Linked DNA regions of Homo sapiens: region 1 is linked to region 2. Evidence: fine-mapped expression QTL. A gene starts in region 2. The other region holds a variant in brackets. All regions are shown on one strand. Distances are from middle to middle.

Region 1 (10,911 bases), 60 kb after region 2:
TTGGCAGGCCCATGTGAGAAAGGGGCTGTGGGGACCTCTGTGTCCTTGGGTGGTGACCTGCTGATAGCTACCCCGTTTCCCGCCCACCCCTGTTGTGAGTGGACACGCGGGGGTCTGCAGGGTTAGCTACCCTGTTTCCCGCCCACCCCTGTTGTGAGTGGACACGCGGGGGTCTGCAGGGTTAGCTACCCTGTTTCCCGCCCACCACTGTTGGGAGTGGACACGCGGGGGTCTGCAGGGTTAGCTACCCCGTTTCCCGCCCACCACTGTTGGGAGTGGACACTCAGGGATCCGCAGTGTTAGCTACCCCCTTTTCTGCCCACCCTGTTGTGAGTGGACACTCGGAGGTCTGCAGGGTTGGTGTGTCGGGCTGCCTTGGCCTAAGTGTGTGACATGGACCCAATCTCTTCTGTACAGGTACCCCCTGTACCGGCTGGGTGGCCCACAACTTCGGGTGTTCCGAACCAACTTCTTCATTCAGCTGGTGCGGCCCGGTGTGGCCCAGCCCGAGGACACCGTGCAGTTCCGGATCCCCATGGAGTGAGTCCGGGAGGATTCCGGCTGGGGTTGGGGAGCACCCTCGGGGGGATCCCCGTGGAGTGAGCCCGGAAGTTTTCCCGCTGGGTTGGGAGAGTGCCCTCAGGGGGGCCTGGGTCCTGAGTTAAAACAACTCTGCTCACGTGCTAGCCTCTTCCTGCTGGGAAGGCACCTCAGGCGGCCCTGCCCGGCAAGTATTGATGGAGTGCCTGTAGGTGTGGAGCCCGGCAGGCAGGCTGCACGCCGCCCTCCACCCGGGGACGGCTTCACTGGAAGCCTTAAAATTTGGACCTCTGTGCTCGCGTCTTCTGTTGAGTTCTTGCAGCTTCTTTTTAGGAGAGGCGCCCTGAGAGGCTGGGTTGGGAGCAGGCCGTGATGTACAGAACCGCTCAGAAGAGCCTGCTTGACCTTCAGAGAAATGCACAGTCCCTACGAGCAAAACTGGGGTGCTGCTCTGCAGTGTTTAAGTTCACAGGTCCCCAGCTCAGGGTTGATGCGAGCCAGGCGGGGCAGCAGCGTGAGCTCCCCTGGGGGCGAAGGTCAGGCCTGTGCAGCCTGCAGGGGCCCAGAAGCTGAGTTGACAGTGACCGTGAGGTTCTGCAGTAGAGGGAACTTGCAGTTAACGCACCGAATGCCAGGCAGGCCTTTCCAGAAGGTACTTCCTAGAACCGCATCAGTCCCATCAGCCGCAGAGCAGGCCTAACCCTGATGCGGCCACTGGGCCCCGGGGCAGACGAGGTGGGGCACCTGCCAGCCAGGAGCGTGCAGAGACTGTCACCTCCTCTCACAGGCACTTGCCCGGAGCAGGGAGCCATGTGGGGCTGTGGAGCAGGCCAGGGGTTGGTTGGGCAGTGCTCCCACTCTGTGGGGTCTGTGCCACTGCCACCCCATGCTGGTGTGCCCAGAGTAGGGAGTCTTGCAGCCAGCAGCACTGGTGTTGCTGGGGCTGCCTGGCCTCACTAGTGCCGCTGATGTACCCAGCCCTCCTCCCTGCCCCCTGTGGGTCTTGGTCTGTCGGCCTCTCAGCCTCGGGTGCTTGTGCATCTGGGACAGTATTTTTGGCTTTTAGCCTGGTTAAGATGCCGTTTTCTTTCTCCTTCGCCTCCAGAATGACAAGGGTGGACCTCAGGAATTACCTCGAGGGCATCTATAACGTGCCCGTGGCTGCTGTGCGGACACGGGTGCAGCATGGTGAGTGCCCATGGGAGGTTCTCCTGTTGGTGTCGTGCCCATCTGTGCCACATGCCCACCTCGCCGAGCCACAGCCTCAGCTACTGCATGGGGGTCTTGGTCTGACGTGGCTCATGGGAAACTGAGGCACAGGGTGACTTGTCAGGGTCACACGGTGCTTACGTGCCAGAGCAGGGATTGGAATTCAACTGGGCTGGCCCGGGGTCCATTCTGAGCCCTGACTCCTGCCGTCAGCCCCCGAGGTGGGACTGCAGTGGCTGAGGCTGGGGAGCAAAGCGCTGTCTGTTCCATAAGCCCCTGTCGTGTGCCCTGGCTGGTGCCACGTCCGCTCCTTTGTTGAGAACCTGCTGGCCTCTGTTGGGAGAAGGGAGGAGCCTGGGAGCCTGCTGTGCTGGCTCGTTTGATTACAGTGCCCATTTCCCTGAGAAATCGCCTTTTTGAGTTTTTAAAAACATATTTACATTTTTAAGAGAGCAGAGGTTCGTTTTAGTGGCATTGACCTCTGAGGATGTAATTTTTTAAAGTTCTGATTTTTTTAAAGTTCTGATTTTTTTTTCACTCCCTTCCGGCAGGCTCTAACAAGAGAAGAGATCACAGAAACGTGAGGATCAAGAAGCCGGACTACAAGGTCGCCTACGTGCAGCTGGTGCGTGTGAGCTGGCCAGCCCCAGCGGGGCCTCCGAGGGGCTCCTCGCAACTGTGTCCTTGGGGATGTTTGTGCCGGAGACGCTGCGCTGGGGCCCAGGGAGCCCCCGTGAGGCCGGATCTCAGGGCCTCAGCGCAGAGGCAGGCTCCACATAAGGTCATGCTCCGTCACGGCCTTGGGGGTGTTAGTGGTGGCGCTGGGAGCACGTGAGCACTGGGGCACATGGGGCACGTCTCAGCGTCCGGCCGTTTTGTGATTTTGAAGTTTGAATTCTCTGTGGGCAAAGGCAGCCATCACAGGCCTAGTGGGTTTCAACTCCAACGCACACCAGGGTGTCAGAGCATGGGAGGCCCCGGCCTCTGGAGAGCCTGTCCTTGGCTGGGTTTCAGCCTCGGAGGCAGAGTGTGAGGCCCCTGAGGGCAAAGGTCTTTGGTGCCAAGGCAGGTCTGGCTGGCCGGGCTGTTGGCTGAGGCCCATGTCCTGCATTGCAGGGTAGCAGGTCCCACGTACTTGTTAGGGCTCAGCAGGCTGCTTCTGAGCAGGTGCTTTCTTACGTATCCTGGGGGGCTCTGGGGAGGAAGAACCCTCACCCCACGTTGCCTGGGCCTTCAGTTTCTGAAACCCAGACTTGTCAGGAGTGAGACCCACAGTTTCAAAGCCTTTCTTTGGGCTCTTCATTTTGAGTCCCAGGCAAACCCAGAGGCACTTTCTCTCTGGGCCAAGATGTCCACAGCCTGCCCCGGCCGCCTCCTGGGCCTCCCCACTCTGCCCCTGGGGCTGGCCTTACTGGGTGGGGATGGGGTTGTCTTCCGGTGTAAATGGTCCCTGGAGGCCGAGCCGGCGGGCCCTGCCACTAGATGGCAGTCACACGATGGTGGAAACCGCCTCCTGGGCCAGCCGGCCTGTTGTGGGGCTAAGGAGGCAGTTTGTGAAAAAGGCCAAGTTAGCATGGCAGCTTTTCTGAAAAACAGTCACATTTGTTGTTCTAAACAGGGGCCCCCGGAATAATTTGGCCTGATATTTGCTGTGCATGAAATCAGCCAATCCAGGTGGGGAGAGCAGCCGTTGGCCTCATAAAGGCCTCTGTGTGCTCAGTGTCAGTCGGGCCCATCTGTCTTTGTCATGGCATGTGGGTGGACATCCCGTGTGCCGGCACCGCCACGGGCACTTCAGAGGCAGCTACGGTTACAAGTGGCATTCAAGTCATCCGAGCCCTTGCGTTCTTCCTCTGGGCCCCACCTCCCATGAAAACTGAACCCAGCAGCTCCGGGATCCGGTGTCTGCAGCTGCTGCCCGCGTGTTGTTCTCCCTCTGTGAAGTCCAGGCAGCCAGAGACAGGGCAGGGCAACTGGGAGCCTGAAGGGTCCCAGTTGGGCATGGATCCTCCTGTTCCAGAATGAAAATTTGTAACGGGTCCTCACCCCCCTTCCTGAACTCCAGCACATCTTTGCACAGCCTAGAAATGGGCCGTGGCCGTTGGTCCCTGTCTGCCCGCAGAGGGGACTCTCAAGGCCCTTTCCTGTCTCGTGTCTGCTGAGACCTTGCTCAGCGTGTCCCCCTGGGCCCTGCGCCAGGGCTTAGAATCACTGCTAATTGCAAAGCCCAGGGAGGGAGCATTGGAAAGGTAAAATTATCCACGTTATTTGGAGTTGGCCGCTGTGGAAAGGCCCTGTCCCACGTGGCGGGAGTCCCACATTTCTTTCTCCGACAACCTGATAAGCATCTCCTTGGCCCAAAGTCCTGGGAGCTGAAAGCAGCGCCTCAGTGACCCACACAACAAAAAGACCATTGACTGCCCGCTGCCCCGAGGCTTGTGTGGATGCTGAGCAGCGCGGGAATGAAGGGCGCGCAGGAATGAAGGGCGCACGACATGAGAGGCAACTCCAGAACAAACCGCTGCCGCCAGCTGGGCCGAGCTCCGTGCTCGGGGCTCCGGCCTCCAGGTCCAGGCAGGCGGCAGCCCCCAGGGCGCCCTGGGATTCCTGAAGGCAGGGCTGCCTTGTTTACTTGTCATTGGGACATTTTTCTCCATTCCTGTTCTTTACCCCGATCAGCTGTCTCTCTCCTTTTTGGAAGGATCAAGGGCTTTTTTTTTTTAGGTACAAGGTGAACTCTTCTAGAAAGGGGAAGCCCCTGGGAAACCATGCTTGGCATCCCCAAACGGTGTTTGTCTCCTGTAAGAAACGGATTTTCTCTCAGCACCTTTCCCCATTTCTTCCCGAAGCTGTGACAAATGGCCATGTTTGTGCTTTAAACTGTCATTTTGGGTTCCCCTTGCCTCGGAAAACTAGCAGAATCACCTCCATATAGTCAAGGTGAATCTCCCATTCTGGGCAGTCAGCCTCACGTGTAAACGACTGCCCCTTGGTATTTTAAAAGACGCAAAGTTCAGAGCTGTGTAAGGCAATCCTCCTGCAGGCCGGCTACGGCGCACGCAGTGCCACTCTCCCCGCCAGCCCCTGCGCTCTGCGCCAGGGATCAGGGTGCATACACCTCCCTCGCAGGGTGGGATCTGGGCCTGTTTCAGATCATACTTGGCTGCCTGCCCACATCCAGATTTATTTACACACAAAGGGTCTGCAAGAGCCAAGTGTACCTGACTGATTTTACTCACTAAAGGGTTCCAGATTCGGGTGCCATCCTCACTCCTCCTCCCTCTTCTCTTCCCTCTCCTCTGGTCTGCTCTTTCTGCCTCTTAGCTTTGGAGCACTTAGTAATCATTAGCAAGTTAAGATGGCTTCTTGTATTTGCTTAGGTCCCCAAGGAGCAGTATCCCCTCCTTCTCGTGAACCCGAGCCACATGCTGTGGCCTGGGCTGGGGCTTGGCTGACACGGACATATTCTGAACTCTCAGCAGAAGATGTAAGACCAGTTAATTGGCAGAGCCGGTCCTGATTTATCAACTGCCGCACGTGCATGTTTCTTCGTACGTGATGTTCACTTTAATTGCCAGGCTCTGGGCTGGGAGGAGGGGGAGCTTTAATGTGAGTAGAGCCTGAGGCATTTTGGATGGACAGGTTCAGCATGGTACCAGACGTGATTTGTGTCATGTTTTTCCATGCCTTGTTTCTGCCCCCCACCAACCAGGTGGCCCCGTGCTAGTAAATGGGTGCACCCAGGGCGGGGGCAGACACCAGGCCCTAAAGAGACAATG[G/A]TGGGGAAAGCGGCCCTGTCCTGGAGCTGTGGCCTCTGCTGCAGCGTGACAGCCGGGGGCCGGTGGCCGTGGGGGTGCTTACATTCCAGGCAGGGACGCTGCCCCAGGAGGCCCAGGGAGGTACCTCTGAGCAGTTGAATCCGGCGCCGGCAGAAAGGGGCTGCCAGAAAGCATGAGGCTCCCCCACAGACCCCTCTGCTGAGGAGTCTTTGCAGCTCTGGCTGGAGCCTTTGTTCTCCCCCTTAGGCCCATGGACAGACCTTCACGTTCCCAGATCTGTTTCCCGAGAAAGACGAGAGCCCTGAAGGCAGCGCTGCCGACGACCTCTACAGCATGCTCGAGGAGGAGAGGCAGCAGAGGCAGAGCAGCGACCCGCGGCGGGGCGGCGTCCCCAGCTGGTTCGGGCTGTGACGGGGTGGCCAGCAGGGACGCGCCCCAGGTGGGCAGCTGTGGCAGAGCAGCGACCCGCGGCGGGGCGGCATCCCCAGCTGGTTCGGGCCGTGACGGGGCGGCCAGCAGGGACGCGCCCCAGGTGGGCAGCTGTGGCAGAGCAGTCCCGACACCTAAATAAAAGTCTTGCTGCAGGAGAAAGAGCCGGAAGCTCTGCTTCCTTCTTCTCTTGGGTCTCTGGGTGCCAGACACGCAGCAGCCACCCCCCAGCTCTGAGCGCCACGTGGCCTGGCTCCGCTTTCCCAGGGTCTGGGCAGTGGGCGCGGCCGGGGTCTGGTCTCTGAGTTGACGGGGAACTGAGGGTGGGCAGACTTGAGACGTGGCCCCATGCTGGGGAGGCGGGTTGGCCAGAGAGGGCCACACACAGGCTCGGAGCTGCATGCCAGGTGGGGAATGAGACACGCAGGTGAAAAGACCCAGAAGATAGTTCTGAGCGCCCACATTCAGAGCCTGAGCCCAGAGGCGTCGGGAGGAATGGAGGGGTCAGCGTGAGCACGGGGCGGCGCCGGGTGAGAGAACGGCCTGGCCTGGACAGAAGTTCTGGGGAGGGGCTGCCAGGGCAGCAGCCCTCAGGGGGCCTGGTGAGGGAACTCCGGCCCGCCTGTGGGTTTCGGTTTGGCACTGTTGGCAGCAAGAACCCGAGAAGGGCCGGGAAGGGATCCGAGGGCAGCAGTGTCTCAGGAGAGCCATGGCGGAGAGGTGCCGTCGGGCGGAGAGGTGCCGTCGGGCACAGGCCCGGGGCTGGGCCTAGGGGACAGGGAGGACCCAGCCTGGAAAGGTGGTTAGGGCAGGGGGCAAGGTGTGGCCAGCAACCACTGCAAAACAGTTCTGTGGGCTTCTCGGCCCTGGGGGTGGACAGGTCGAGAGAGGAGAGGGTGGGCTTGAGCATCCTGTTGGAGGTGCCCAGTGGCCTCGCAGTGTCTGGGTGGATGCCTGGGTCTAGACCCTTGTTCTGTCGGCCCAGGGCAGGTCAGGACGCACGGCCCCTGCTCTGATTCTTGTCTAAAGGGTTCTGCGTGGAAGCCTGTGGCCCTGCCAGAGGCTCTGTGCTGCCTCTCCTAGCCTGGCCTGGCCTGTGGGAGCAAAAGGGGGTTGCCCGGCCGCCGTTTTTGGGGCCTGAACCTGGCAGACTGGCCTGGGTTCCCGTTCCAGCAAAGCTGGACAGGCCAGCCGGGGCAGCCTCCAGGGGGCCCTGAGCTGGATACAGAATTGATTTTTGGTTTTAATGATGTCTTATTCAGAACCTTCCAAGGAGCCCGGAAGGTTTCCAGCCCCTCTTCCCAGAACCCCTGCATCTGGTGAGGCCCAGGGCCTCCAGAGCCCCTTCTGGCCCCGTCTCCATGCGGCAGCTGGTGCGTCCTCAGGACGGGTTGCAGAGGCCTGGGGGCCCCTCTGTTTTTCTTAGTCTGTCCTTGGTTCCAGTGCTTCCCGAGAAAATCCAACATGGAGGCCAGAGCAAGGCCCCCTCCCTGCTGTGTGCGGGCAGCTCCGGCTTTGGGGTTGGGAATCAAAACCAGGGCCCACGTGTACGTCGGGAGCCATCTGCGCTCCACCCTGACCAGGACGGAGCCGCACTCGGGCGTCTGGGGGAAAGCCCACGGCGCGGCTTTCTTGCACGAAGTTGGGTTTGCCGTGTAAGCCTCCCCATGCGAATGCTCAGAAGAACACAGGTGTCACGTGGCCTTGGGACCAACCCTGATCTGCAGCGTGGGCCTGTTGTGGTCTGAGTGAGGGTCCTGGCTTTTCCTTCTGCTTGGGCAGCCTTCCGAGGGTCTTGCAAGAGGAGATGGCGTGGCAGCTGGCTCAGCCTCCCCTCCCCCAGCCCGGAGTGCAGGCAGGAGGGGGTGTGGCGGGGGAAGTGTTCGGCTAGGGGGTGAAGGCCCGGGCAAGCTCACCCTTCAGTGTTGATTTAAAGGGATGGGGAAGGTCAGGAAGTAGAGCCGGAGAAATGGAGTCAACTGTGTTTTCCTTAGAGAAATAATTCATGGGGCCTAGAGCTCTGAGGACCCTAACTCACGGCAGGGGAAGAGGAATCCCATCCTTCATCCACGGCACGTCCAGCCCCGCACACAGGGGCCGTTAGCAGCCCTGCTGGCGGCCAGCGCACCAGGCACACTCCATCACGGCCGCCACCCCCAGACGCAGCCCTGACTCCGGCTCCAGCCGCCCCGGCCTCCAGATCCTCCTCCCGCCCTGTCTCACCCCGGCCTGTGCTGTCCCGTCGCAGCCCCCATGTCTCCCACAGGCCTCCCTGCCAGGGAGGAGAAAGGGGCTGGGGAGCTACTGCACCCCCATCTCCACAGCACACCAGGGGCTCCCTCACTCCCCAGTCGTCACTGGGCATCCTTCTGCATGGCAGCCCACTGACCCCGGTAAGGGGCTGGCTGAGGGCCGGGCCTTAGGGGAGATAATAGCCTCAGGGGCCTGCCAAGTGCGTGGCCTGGGCCCAGTCCCAGGGGGTGCCCAGATGGAGGCAAGACCAAAATGCGGGGATGAGCACGGGGTGAGGCTGGGCGCATTTCTTGAAGAATGGGGGATAGGGACGGGCGTGTGGCGGTCCAGCGTGAGAAACAGGGCTGCCAGTCCTCGGCGGGGGTGGGTGATTCACACAAGACCCCACTTTCTGGGTCGTTGACTTGACCAATGGTTTCTGGTCTGAGCCGGGTGTCAGAACTGAGGCCCCCGGGTATCTGTCCCAGCCGCGTGTGGCATGACCTAGCCATGTCACTGGGTAGTCTTCCCCAAAGCATCCACACCCACCTCACATGCCTGCTGCAGAGGAGCGCGGAGCAGGCCGGGGTGGGCAGGCGGCCCCACTCAGGGTCTGGAAGGCTTGGCCTCTCCAAGAGCCCTGCGTGCCGCACCCATGGAGCTGAGCTTGGGGTAGCCAACCAGGGCTGTGCGGGGAGGGCCCACAGGAAGGGCCCTGGGTGGAGTGGGATGCTCGGGTTCAGCTGGGGGTCTGCTCCCACCACCTCAGGCACACACACAGCCCACAGAAGGGACCGGCTGGACGCGCCAGCTCCCGTGACCCGCTCCTGCCTGGAGGCTCAGGGAGGGAGGGAGCAGCACCTGGGCAGGTCTGTCTTTTCCCCAGTACGAGGGCCCACTGTCGTGGCGCATGTGCTCACACAGGCTCTTTCATGCATGGGGACCAGAGAGGGTCTCACAGGGCCCCTCCGGCCCGGGCGTCAACCTCACCACCCCCACACCTGGGCAAGACCCCTGTCCAACCCAAACAGGCTGTTCCTGCAGAAGGAACTCGCCCGGAAAGATGCATCTCCCAAGGCTGACAGGACCACTCCCGCCTGTGTCTGGACATCCTCAGCGTGGCAGGAGTGGGAGAGGGACCCTGACCCAAGAGATAGCAAGTGGGCCCGCGGCCTTGCCTCGGTCGCCCCCAACATGACAGCCCTTCCCCTCGTGGACATCTCCAGCTGGGAGCAGGGTCGGGGACAGCCAGAGACAAAGGCAACAGGACGAGGGAGAGAGCCGACAGCGCTGCTCCGTGTCCCCATTCATGTTCATTTATTGCCATGCAGGGGTGATGCAAGGCCCAGGCAGTGCCATGCTGCGTGCATGGGAAGGGGTGGAGGGCCCTCGGGACCGCACCGGGCTGTGCTCATAGCTGGACGGCCCCACTTCTCTATGCTGATGAGTTTATAGCCATGATGGGCCCAGCTCTACGGCCCACAGGAGCCCATGCCCTGGCAGCTCCAGGTAAGAGCCAAGCTGCCGGAATGGAGCAGAAACCCCTCTGTCTTCTGTCCTCCTCCTCCCCAGGTGCCGCACCCTCGGTCCCCTCCTCTCTATCTCCAGCACCGCTCACAGCTCCGCACCCCCAGAATTCCCTGCATTGTCGTCTCTGCGTCTTGGGGCCCTGCAGAGATGCCTGCAGTGCCCTGTGCGTGGTGGCCAGGGCCTGGGCTGCGGTGTACGTGAGTGCCCGTCTCATCTCCCTAACCGGCTAAGAGTTCTTTCAAGGCCAAGAATTCTTCTCTTTGACCATATTTCCACCCCTCCGCCTGCCCTAAGACGCTCTCCATAGTGGACGCTGCACTTTGCCATGGCATGCCGGGTGGACAGGACTGCTGGGGCCCCCGTGTTCCAGCCTCTCCTGCGCCTCCAGATGCCTCCTGAGGGCATCTGGGGCATCTGGTTCTCCTCTTTGGGAGCTGGCAGTGTTCCTGGGGCGGCTTGATAGTGTCCCATCTATGGCATCACTTCCGTACCTGGTGGCAGATGAGCAGCCAGGTGCTGGGGCAGGAGTGGGCTCTTCCTGTCCCTGGCTCCCTGGGCTCCTCCTCTGCCCCATCCTGCCCCCACCCACCTCCTTGGGCCCCTCTGCCTCAAGCCAACACATGCCTCTGCAGTCTAGAACCTGAAGTCACATTCGCGGTTGCCTGTCTGCACTGGGGGTTCCCATCTTCTGGCCTCCAGCAGGGGACGAAGGCCAGGGACACAGCGGTTCCTCCTGGTCCACCCCAGGGCTTAAAGTGAGGACAGGCTGGAGAAGGCCAGCCCCTTGAAGGTAGCTGTAGTGGCTGCCATCTTGGGACTGCCCTCCCACCTCCCACCTTTCCTGCAACCATCAGCCGTATTAGCTGAGTGAACGAGTGAGTGAGTGAGTGCCCGATTCAGGAAGTCAGCTTGGCCAGGTGGGAAAGCCAGGCTGCCATCCTCTTCCTCGGGCTTTGGTGGGTGCTCCTGGCCAGGGCCTGGCTGAGTGGGCAGGTGGCGTGAGCCGAGCACCGCCTGGCATCCCTGCCTGGCCATGGGGGGTCCCCCAGAGCAGGAGGCCTGTGGCTGCAGTGATCTGAGAGAGCACTGGCCTTGGGATGCTCTTTTCTATTTTTAAAAAACAGCTTTATTGAGATGAAGTTCACATACCCTAAAATCCACCCACTCAATGGCTTCTAGTATATTCCCAGAG
Region 2 (10,911 bases):
GCGGGGTGCGGGCCCTCAGCAGCGTGCGGGGCTGTGACCTCCTGGTCATGGCTGGCCTCACTCACGGGGGACAGGGAGGTGCGGAAGGCCCTGGGTGGAGCGAGGTGTGTGCCTCCCATCATCTTCTTCCGGGCTGCCTTCCTCAGGAGCTTCTGCAAACGCAAGTTGTCCTTCCCTGGCTTGGGCAGCAGGGGCGGTGGGGGTCCAGGGGTTCCCTGGAGGCTTGGGCCGCACACCTCGGGTGCCATCGACGCAGCCGATATGAGCATGACTGTGTCCTAGGGTGGGAGGGACAGTGGTCAGGCCAGCCCTCCTCCCTCCTGAGGTGGGAGGCCTGTGTCTCCTGTGGTCCAAGGAGGACCTGGGGCCAGGGGTGTGGAGGCCTGAGTATTCTGCTTCCTGAGCACCCAGAACCTGCCAGGGACATGCTGAGCTCGACTGTGCCTTGGGGACTTTGGGGTGGCCCCACCATCACCCTAGTGTAGAAATGAGGCCACAGAGGCCGAGTCCCTCCAGGGATGGGGCTAGAACCTGCCTCCAGGGCTCTGTCCTCCATGCCACCCCAGCACAAAGCAGGCCCCAAGTACACAGCCTGGGTCAGGCCGCAACACCGTGTGGGCTGGGGTGGGAGACGGAGACGCGGGTGAGCCCCAAGTGACAGGCATGCCCCTGGCCAGCTGCTGGCCAAGCCCAGGGCTGGAAGAGCGGCTGCCCCCAGACACGTGAGGGGCGCCCTGTTGTCGCCGGCTCAACCACAGGCGCGTCCGCTGCGAGCCAGCGGTGAGGGGTGGCGGCCAAGAGGCTTGGGAAAGCCGAGGCTGCATCATCAGAGGTAGATTGGCCGGAAGGTGGGAGCAGTTTTCGCTGAGCTATGCTAAATGGGATATTCCCGCAGACCTCCTGTCTGGGGTGGCCCGGCCAAGCCGCCCACCCTGGTTTCTGGGCACCACGTGTTTGCAAGGACATTGACAAATGGCATCTGTCCGAGCCAGAGGCTCTCTGGTTTGGGGAAGGAGGGAGTCCTGGGGGCTGCCGCTGGTGGGGGCTGGCTCTGCCAAGGCAAGAACAGAGCTGCTGGAGGGGTGGGGGCGGAAGGAGCCTGCTTAGGACTGCTCTCAGCTACCGGCCTCCTCTGGATGACGGGACTGCAGGAACCACGAGAACCCCAGTTCTAGCTCCCAGGGTGGGCAGGCTGCTTGGCAGGCAGGCCGCCTTCCCTCCACCAGGAGTCAGGTCTCCAGCCAGAGGTCCTGACCCAGGGCACAAGTGCTCGCACTGGGAAGCAGGCCTCTGAGGCAGGACGTCTTCTCCTGTGGTGGAGTGGGGGTGTGGGCAGGGCAGGGAGGCCAGCAGAGAGAGGCTCGGGGAGCAGGCTCTGTGGGCTTGCAGGAGGCAGGTCTGTGGCCCCTCCCTGGACCCTAGCCTAATGCCCCCTGCACCCCATGCCTATGTTCCAGCTTCCTGGGTCTGCAGGTCCAGCCGGCTGGCACCCTCCATGTACCCAGGGGAGATTCCAGCCAGACACCCGCCCCCCGGCCCTGGCTAAGAAGTTGCTTCCTGTTGCCAGCATGACCTACCCTCGCCTCTTTGATGCCATCCGCTGCCACCTCCTTTTGCTCCTGGACCCTTTAGCCTCTCTGCCCTTCCACTCTCTGACCACCGCCCCCGCCCTCCCCACCCAGCTCCGCTTCTTGTTACTTGGGGGAGGAAAGAAACTCCTGATCATTGGCCAAAGGGACTTACCCCTGGAGAGGCCAAGTGCCTTCTAGGAAGTTAGGAGGTTGAGGCACAGCCTGTGCAGAGAGGGTGGGTCACCCCCCCAGATCCAAGGAGAAACTGCAGGTCAAGGGCTGATAACGGCCATGCAGGATGCTTGATGCTGCGTCCCCCGCTGCTTGCCGCCCCCCACCCCGCCATTTTGTATAATAAAGCTCCCTGTGTATTCTCATGTGCTGGCTGTCTTGTACTCACTAAGGGGGCAGGGCTGGCCAGGATGGAAATGTTGGGCCAGTGGCCAGCCCATTCCCACACTGCACAGCATGCTGTGGCCTCTGGGTTCAGGCAGTCTGACCTGTCTCATGGCCTTTGCAGTATAAGACGCCAGGACATAAGCTCTCTGGTGGCCTAAGTCAGAGCACACACAATGGGTGGGGTCCGGGCTTCCTTTTCCAGAATGTCTGTGATATCCCTACCCCAACCAGGACTAGCCCAATATAAACTTCTGTGCCTTGACTTCGCACCCACTGAGGGCAAGATCCACCTCGGGGCCTCCCCCAACACCACACAGGAGGTGCTCAGTGAAGGTTTGGAAAACAGACAAATGGGTGGATGGGTGGGTGGATGGATGGATGGGTAGGTGGGTGGACGAATGGATAGATGAATAGATTAATGGATGGATGAGTGGATGGATAGGTGGGTGAATGGATGGGTAGGTGGGCGAGTGGATGAATGGCTGGGTGGGCAAGTGGGTGGATGGATGGATGGGTAGGTGGGTGGACGAATGGATAGATGATCAGATGAATGGATGGATGAGTGGACAGATAGGTGGGTGAATGGATGGGTAGGTGGGTGAGTGGATGAATGGCTGGATGAGCGAGTGGAGGGATGGGTGAGTGGATGAATAGGGGATGGATGAATGGATAGAGGGATATGTGGATGAGTGAATGAGTAAGTGGGTGGGTGGGTGGATGGATGGATTGATGGATGGATGAGTGGACGGATAAGCAGGTGAATGGATGGGTAGGTGGGTGAGTGGATGAATGGTTGGGTGGGTGAGTGGAGGGATGGGTGAGTGGATGAATAGGGGATGGATGAATGGATAGACGGACATATGGATGAGTGAATGAGTAAGTGGGTGGGTGGGTGGATGGATGGATTGATAGATGGATGGATGAGTGGACGGATAAGCAGGTGAATGGATGGGTAGGTGGGTGAGTGGATGAATGGTTGGGTGGGTGAGTGGAGGGATGGGTGAGTGGATGAATAGGGGATGGATGAATGGATAGAGGGATGTATGGATGAGTGAATGGGTAAGCAGGTGGGTGGATGGATGGACTAATGGATGGATGAGTGGGTGAATAGGTGGGTGAATGGATGGGTGGGTGGGAGGATGGCTGGCTGGCTGGCTGGCTGGCTGGATGGATGGATGGATGGGTTAGTGAATGGATAGGTGGATGGATGAAAGGAGGGATGCATGAGTGGATAGGTAGATGAGTGGATGGATGGATGAAGGGATGGCTGGATGAATGGACAGAGGGAGAGAGGGGGGATGGAGGGAGGGATGAGTGAGTGAATGGGTAGGTGGGTGGGTGGATGGATGGATGGAAGGAGCGATAAATGAAGGGATGGGTAGGTGGTTGGATGGATGGATAGATAGATAATGGAGGGATTGATGAATGAAGGGATGGATGCATGGATGGGTAGATGGATGGATGGATGAAGGGATGGATGAGAGTGGATGGACAGGTGGATGGATGGATAGGTGGATGGATGAATGGAGGGATGGATGTGTGGATGGGTAGATGAAAGGATGGATGAAAGGACGGATAGATAGATAGGTGAGTGAGTGAATGGATAGGTGGATGGATGAATGGAGAGATGGATGAGTGGATGGGTAGATGGGTGGGTGGATGGATGGGTGAAGGGATAGATGAATGGATGGACAGAGAGCGGGAAGGATGGATGGAGGAAGGGATGAATGAGTGGATGGGTAGGTGGGTGGGTGGATGGCTGGAGTGTGGGAGTGTGTGTGTGTGTGTGTGTGATAGGGCCTCACTCTGTTTCCCGGGCTGGGAGTGTGTGTGTGTTTGTGTGTATGTGTGTGTGTGACAAGTTCTCTGTTTCCCAGGCTGGAATGTGTGTGTGTGTGTGTCAGAGCCTCACTCTGTTTCCCAGGCTGGGAGTGTGGGAGTGTGTGTGTGTGTGTGTGTGTGTGTGTGTCAGAGCCTCACTCTGTTTCCCAGGCTGGGAGTGCAGTGGCACAATGAGAGCTCCTTGCAGCCTCAACCTCCTGGGCTCAACGGATCCTCCTGCTTCAGCCTCCCAAGTAGCTGGGACCGCAGGTGCCCACCACCACACCTGGCTAAGTTTTTGATTTTTTTTGTAGAGACGAGGTCTTGCTATGTTGCCCAGGCTGGCTTCAAACTCTTGGGCTCAAGCGACCCCCCCTGCCTCCACCTCCCAGAGTGCTGGGATTACAGGCATGAGCCCTGCACCCAAGGGTTTGTGCTTTTTTACAGTGTTACATAAATGGCATCCTGCAGCACGCACGCACTCCTTGTCTGACTTCTGTCACGTAGCATAACTATTCTGAGATCCATGCTTGCTGCTGTGTCTGTTGTAAACACTCATTTTTATTGCCACAGCATGGGTACACCCCAACCCGCTCATCTGTTCGTCTCTTGGTGGACATCAGGGTGGTTTCCAGTTTTGAATGATGGAAAGTAATGTGGCCATTTACATTCACACACAGGTTTTCAGAAGGACATACATTTCCTTTACTCTTGGGGAGAGGCCTAGAAATAAAACGACTAGATGCCGTGGGAGGTGTGTGTGAAACTTGTTCAGAAACGGCCTAGCTCTCATTTCTTGTTGCAGTTGGAATGGTTCATCTCGCTGACTTTGGCCCTTCCTAGACGTGGAGGGTGCGGTCTGTGATTTTGGCTTGCGTGTCTCCCGGCACCAGGGGTGCCGTGCAGCTTTGCACGTGCTACTTCACCACTGATACATCTTGCTGGGGGAAGCATCTGTTCAGATCTTTTGCCCGTTGCTGTAAAATTGGGTTATTTGTTTTCCTATTGTTGAGTTTGAGAGTTCTTTCTTTCTTTTTTTTTTTGAGATGGAGTTTTGCTCTTGTTGCCCAGGCTGGAGTGCAGTGGCGCCATCTTGGCCCACTGCAACCTCCGTCTCCTGGGTTCAAGCGATTCTCCTGCCTCAGCCTCCCAGGTAGCTGGAACTACAGGCATTTGCCACCACGCCGGGCTAATTTTTGTATTTTTAGTAGAGGTGGGGTTTCACCATGTTGTTCAGGCTGGTCTCGAATTCCTGACCTCAAGTGATCCGCCTGCCTTAGCCTCCCAAAGTGCTGGGATTACAGGCGTGAGCCACCGTGAGAGTTCTTTGTATATATTCTGAATCAATCCTTGATGAAATAGATTTGCAAAGATTTTTCTCCTGGTTGGTGGCCTTGTCCTCTCACCGTTAACCATCTGAAGAGCAAATTTTAAACATTTTTGATGAATTTCAGTTTGTCAATTTGTTCTTTTAGGAATTGTGCTTTTGGTATCATGTCTGAGAAATCTTTGCCTTATCCAGAGCCATAAAGATTTTCTCCTGTGTTTTTATGGCTCCAGCTTTACATTTAGACCCACGATCCTTTTTGAGTTAATGTTTGTGTATAGTGTGAGGTACGAATGCAAATTATTCTTCTTTTTCTTTTTGCATATGGAGATCCAGTTGTTCCAGAATATGAAATTGCTGCAGCATGGTTTCTTGAAGAAGCTACAGTTGTGCACCGAGTCGCCTTTGCACCTTTGTCAAAAGTCTGAACTGTGCATGGTGGTGGGTGCCTGCGGTCCCAGCTACTTGGGCGGCTGAGGTGGGAGGATCCCTAGAGCCTGGGAATTTGAGGCTGCAGCGAGCAGAGATTGCACCACTGCACTCCAGCCTGGGCAACAGAGTGAGACCCTGCCTGAAAAAAAGTCATCAGTCTGTGTGTGTAAGCTGATTTCTGGACCGTTTTCTTTTGGATCTACTTGAATATTTTTACACCAGTATCACTCAAGTTTTGCTTACACTGGTCTTATATGAATTCTTAGAATGTTAGCTCTTCAATTGTGTTCTTTTTCCGGATTGTTTTAGCTCTTCTCCTCCTCTGCTTTTCCATATGTGTTTTAGAATGGACCTGTGAATTTCTATAAATGCAGGGAGAGTTGACATCTTAACAGTATTGAACTTACTAATCCACGAACCTTGGATGTCCCTATTTATTCAGGTCTTCTTCCACTTCTTCCAAGGATTTTTTACTCTTTCAATTTGGAGGTCTTTCACATCTTTTGTCAGATTGACCTCTAAGTATTGTCTATTTTTATACAGTTAGGAAGTGGTATTTTTAATGTCAATATCTGATAGTTGATTACCATTTTATAGAAACACAATGGACTTTGTATATCAGTCTTGTTATTCCACAACCTTGTTAATCTCACTGAGTAGTTCTTGCAGGTTTTTCTTTTGTTGTTGATTCCATCGGGTTAGATGGTCACGTTATCTGTAGATAAGATTGTTTTCTTTTTCCTTTCTCGTCTGTATGGCTTTTATTTCTTTTGGGGGCCTAATTGCACGAGCAGGAACCTCCAGGTCAATGTTGGACGGAGGTGATGAGGGCGGACATCCCAGCCTCCTTTCTGTTCTTAGTGAGAAACTGTTCAGTCTTCCGCCATCGGTTGTGGGGTTTTCATAGATATCCTGTATTAGGTTAGGGAAGTTCCCTCTATTCCTAATTTACTGAGTGATGTTTTTTAAACAAATCAGGAACCGACGTTGGATTTTTCAAATGCTTTTTCTGTACTGTTAAAAGAAAAACCTTAGACAAATTAAATTTAACAGAGTTTAATTAAGCAAAGAACCACTCGCTAATGGGGCAGCCCCCAAACCAAAATAGGTTCAGAGAGGCTCTGGTGCTGCCGTGTGGCTGAAGATTGGTGGACAGAAAAGGGAAAGGAGGCACAGAAAACGGAAGCAAAGCACAGAAACCGCCAGAGGGGCTGCAGCTCCATGCTTGCCTTATCTGAACACGGTTGGAATGGCCGGCACCCTTGATGAGCGGAAACCTGGTGAGTGGCACAAGGGAAGGCTTCAGTCTGTTTACGTCTCCAGTGAGGTTTCAGTTCACAGTGGATGGAGAAGGCGGAACATAAACTATGTCAGGAGGCAGCTTTACGCCAAGCTTAATTTAACGATTTCCCCCTTTAGACATTGGTGTCCCTGTCGCCATTGTAAATGTACTTGTTTGGTCCCAAGCCCCACTGGGAAATAGCAGAACAATGGGTTTCGTAAGTGGGAACGAGGACCTCGGGTTATATATTTTTGTAAGGGATAGAGAGGAACCTCCTTGTGCTGGAATTTCATGTGCTCAGAAAAACAAACCCTGGTCTGCCTTAGGACCTATCTGCTTCCGTAAAGCTTCGGTTTGATGGTGTTGCGTTTAGCTTGCGTGACTCCATCTGGGTTTGGTCTGGTCCGTTGGGGCCTCTTGCGGGAGCTCAGTCCAAAACAATGGCCTCTTATAATTTTGTTTAAAAATTCCCTGCCTTTGGTCAGGTTCTCATTTAGTGGAAAGTGTAGCCAAGCCTTAGGGCCTTGGCACCACCCTCAGTCACCGCCACTTCCAGCTTCCGGTCACAGAATGTCATTCGTACCTAGGTTACGACATCCTCATGGCCTTGTGTTTCTTTGAGTTCTTGTTGCTCCAGTCAAAGAGACACCATTTAGCATCCTACAGATGGCTGCATGCAAACATTTAAAACTCCGGAGAGAATGCAGAGCGCCAGGGAGACGAGTATTATGACCATCAGGAAGATCATATTTAATACCAAGAATGTGAAGCATGCTCCTTAGGTGGGGTCCCATGAAGCAAACCAACGAAAATCAAATAGATCAGAGAGTTAGCTGGATAAAGAGTCTACTCATTTCAAACAAGCAGCCTGTTTGTTAATCCCCTACAACCGAACCTTTCTAATACCTGATACATTCCTCCATGTGCCACAAGAAGCATCGGCAACGGCACAGACGCTCCTCTGTTTAGCTAGTAAGGGATCCAGAGCAAGTCTATCATCCCACACACCTTTAGCAAGAGAATTTAAAGACTGTTGTGTAACCATAGCCTTTGGAGTAGAATCTGTTCCAGAGCCAATTACGAGGGATACTTTTTTTTTTTTTTTGAGACCGAGTCTCGCTCCGTCGGCTGGAGTGCAGCGGCGCCAGCCATGTCTCGGCTCACTGCAACCTCCACCTCCTGGGTTCAAGCGATTCTCCTGCCTCAGCCTCACGATTAGTTGAGATTACAGGCGCCCGCCATCATACCCAGCTTATTTTTAATATTTTTAGTAGAGATAGGGTTTTGCCGTGTTGGCCAGGATGGTCTTGATCTCTTGACGTTGTGATCCACCCACCTCGGCCTCCCAAAGTGCTGGGATTACAGGCGTGAGCCACCACGCCCAGCAGAGGGATACATTTTAAATCTTTGCCTCATTTACTCCAAACCATGGAAAAAGAGGCCTCACAAACAGTGCCCATCTAGAAGAGTGAAGCTCCTGCCAGAGTTCTCTTTAAGCTGTGATGTAGAGGAGTGGAGCGATGTTGTTTGTGATTGATTGGGAAGCAACAAAGGCACCCTCAACATTTTTCACCCAGACCGGGCACAGGGGCTCACGCCTGTAATCCCAACACTTTGGGAGGCCGAGGTGGGCACTTGAGGTCAGGAGTTCGAGACCAGCCTGGTCAACATGGTGAAACCCTGTCTCTACTAAAAATACAAAAATTAGCTGGGCTTGGTGGTAGGTGCCTGTAATCCCAGCTACTTGGGAGGCTGAGGCAGGAGAATCGCTTGAACCTGGGAGGCAAAGGTTGCTGTGAGCTGAGATCACACCACTGCATTCCAGCTTGGGCAACAGAGTGAGACTTGGAGTGAGCTAATTTTTTTTTTCACCTACATTGGCCCTTCGTCTTCCAACTGTCAAGGCAAAAGGTTGTCCACATATAGGATTGGCTGCAAAATCCTCCACAAATAAAAGTATACCCCATGAGTGCACATAAGAGATCCCTTTTTAGTTCTATTATTCAGAGGCATGACAGTCTCAAGTTCTTGGGAAAAAGCTGTCCATATCTGGGATGCCAGCTGCTTCTGGGGAGAAACTTCCCTGATTAGCTTTACCTTAAAATCTCCAATGGGGCTGCAGTTGCTGGAGTCTGGCGATGCCCTCTTGAGCGGTGAGATAACGAACCCAGGGTTCAAAGTCCTAGAATTTCACTGCAGTGTGGGTGGCAAGGGCAGTCTTTCTGTGATACTCTCAGAAAACCAAATGTCTGGGTTCTAGATTGTGAAGCGTTTGATAGGGTCCTCAGTGGACCATGAAAAGCTTTCTGTACCTGGTGAAAATATACTTAGGCATAATGCATTAAGGCCTAGGAGCCTTTAGCCATATCGGAGTTGAGGAGTGGAAGATACATGAGGTTCTATATAGGACTTCCAGGGACTATTTCATAAGGCACCAACTTATGTTTTCCACTGGAAATGGACCCGACGGCCATCCACCTGCAACACCCTTGACCAAGGCAGCCCAGTTCATTCATTTCCCTTGCTTAATATTATTGTATCTGTAACAAGTTATTAACAGTTTTACCACTTGAGCAGTGAAACAAGTACATCTATCATGGGAGATTTCTCAAGGGACGTCCCATGAGAAAAACAATTTTCTAATAATCTTTTAGCTACTGCTATAACATCAGTGCTCTTGCCTGGGAAAGCTTCTATATAACCAGAAAACACGCATTGAAAATGACAATTGAAGGAAATCCCTCCAGCAATGTTTCAATGGCCCATCAAGTAGCAGAAGTGTAATGGAAGTTTCGATTGTCCTCCCAGGATTATGGGTTTGGCAGACCAAACATTGGTCGTAAACCATTTTAACAACTTACAACGGTCACCATGTCAAATATATATATGTATATTATATATACATATATATATAAAATTTGGATTAATTTGTCTCTTCCATGATGAATCATGGAGTGCAGAGCATTTAATAGTGGAAGCTTCAAGGACACAGGAAGGACCAGGTGGCCATCTTGGCTGTCCATGTGTCCATGCTTGATGCTGGACTTATATCTTCTTAAATACCAATTTTGTTTCTCCAGTTCAGGTGCATAGCACTGTTTATTAGAAGGGTTATCATAGGTAATTTGACTTGGACGATGGATTTAATTCAAATTGGGTATCTAAACAATATCAGTACTGGCTGATTTAGCATGAAAAGCTGGCAAAGTGTTTTCTTGGTATTCAATTAATTTTTGTCCTGCCCAGGTTAGCAATTTTATAAACCAGTCAATCTTTCCATTAGAGTTCCGGGAATTTTTACCCAGTCCAAATGACATTACACTAAAGTTATCAGAAGCCTATTCAAGAGGGCTTATCAGGGTCCTTTCTCTCCTTTCACGAACCTCCTGGAGGACTCAATATTGTAGGACTGTGTGTGTTTGTGAGTTTTCAGAAACGTCAGAAAAAAGCAATTAACTCTGGAAATGACGTAAAATGGTCATGGTTAAAGAAGAACTGACAAGGAATTTTGATTACTTCTGTGGCCTACAATAACTTAACTGTAATTAAGAGTGACAGCATATACCCGGATGTATCAGAATTTTAGGAACCCCATACAATTTTGGAGCATATATTAATGACGTATTCACAAACAATATCTCAAATAAGGTTAAACATCATTTCTTATTTGGCAGTGCTTCCCATGTAATTTAATTTATCAAATACTTCTGTCTCTCTCTTTTTTGGATACTATAGGGGCCCTTAGTAGCTCTCTCCACTGGGAAAGGCTGTTATCGTCTTTGTTTTAAACTATAAACTAAGTTTCTCCCAAAGTTAGTTCAGCCTACTCCCAGGAATAAGCAAGGACAGGAATAAGCAAGGAGGTTAGAAGCAAGATGGAAGGGCCAGGCACGGTGGCTTACGCCTGTAACCCCATCACTTTGGGAGGCCGAGGTGAGCAGATCACAAGGTCAGGAGTTCCAGACCAGCCTGGCCAATATGGTGAAACCTCATCTCTACTAAAAAAAATACAAAATTAGTCGGGCGTTGTGGCAGATGCCTGTAATCCCAGTTACTTGGGAGGCTGAGGCAGGAGAATC

Direction of the effects. Alleles are on the strand shown, and positions count from the first base shown. SD is a standard deviation of normalised expression in the study named.
In carriers of allele G in region 1, the expression in whole blood of the gene that starts at base 6,444 in region 2 tends to be lower than with A alone (large effect, 1.0 SD a copy in Lepik 2017).

Evidence for each region. PIP is the estimated chance that this variant, and not a neighbour inherited with it, causes the effect.
Region 1: its variant is the best candidate, but not a certain one, in a credible set for the expression of LINC01150 in whole blood (Lepik 2017, PIP 0.71).

What each region holds. Positions count from the first base shown.
Region 1 is chr11:1,950,482-1,961,392 of GRCh38, forward strand. MRPL23 (mitochondrial ribosomal protein L23) reads left to right here. Exons shown (of 5, transcript NM_021134.4): 2 at 418-540; 3 at 1,646-1,728; 4 at 2,301-2,374; 5 at 5,775-6,119. The coding sequence ends at 5,939. Among named protein-coding and RNA genes, the nearest start is that of SNORD131, 6.6 kb to the left of the region's middle. RefSeq lists an enhancer at 7,558-8,336. The variant G/A (reference allele first, on the strand shown) is at 5,529.
Region 2 is chr11:1,890,316-1,901,226 of GRCh38, forward strand. LINC01150 (long intergenic non-protein coding RNA 1150) reads left to right here and starts at 6,444. Exons shown (of 4, transcript NR_120534.1): 1 at 6,444-6,830. It overlaps LSP1 (lymphocyte specific protein 1), which reads left to right. Exons shown (of 11, transcript NM_002339.3): 11 at 1,458-1,948. PRR33 (proline rich 33) reads right to left here and starts at 1,580. Exons shown (of 1, transcript NM_001395380.1): 1 at 1-1,580. The coding sequence starts at 269. RefSeq lists an enhancer at 6,505-7,704.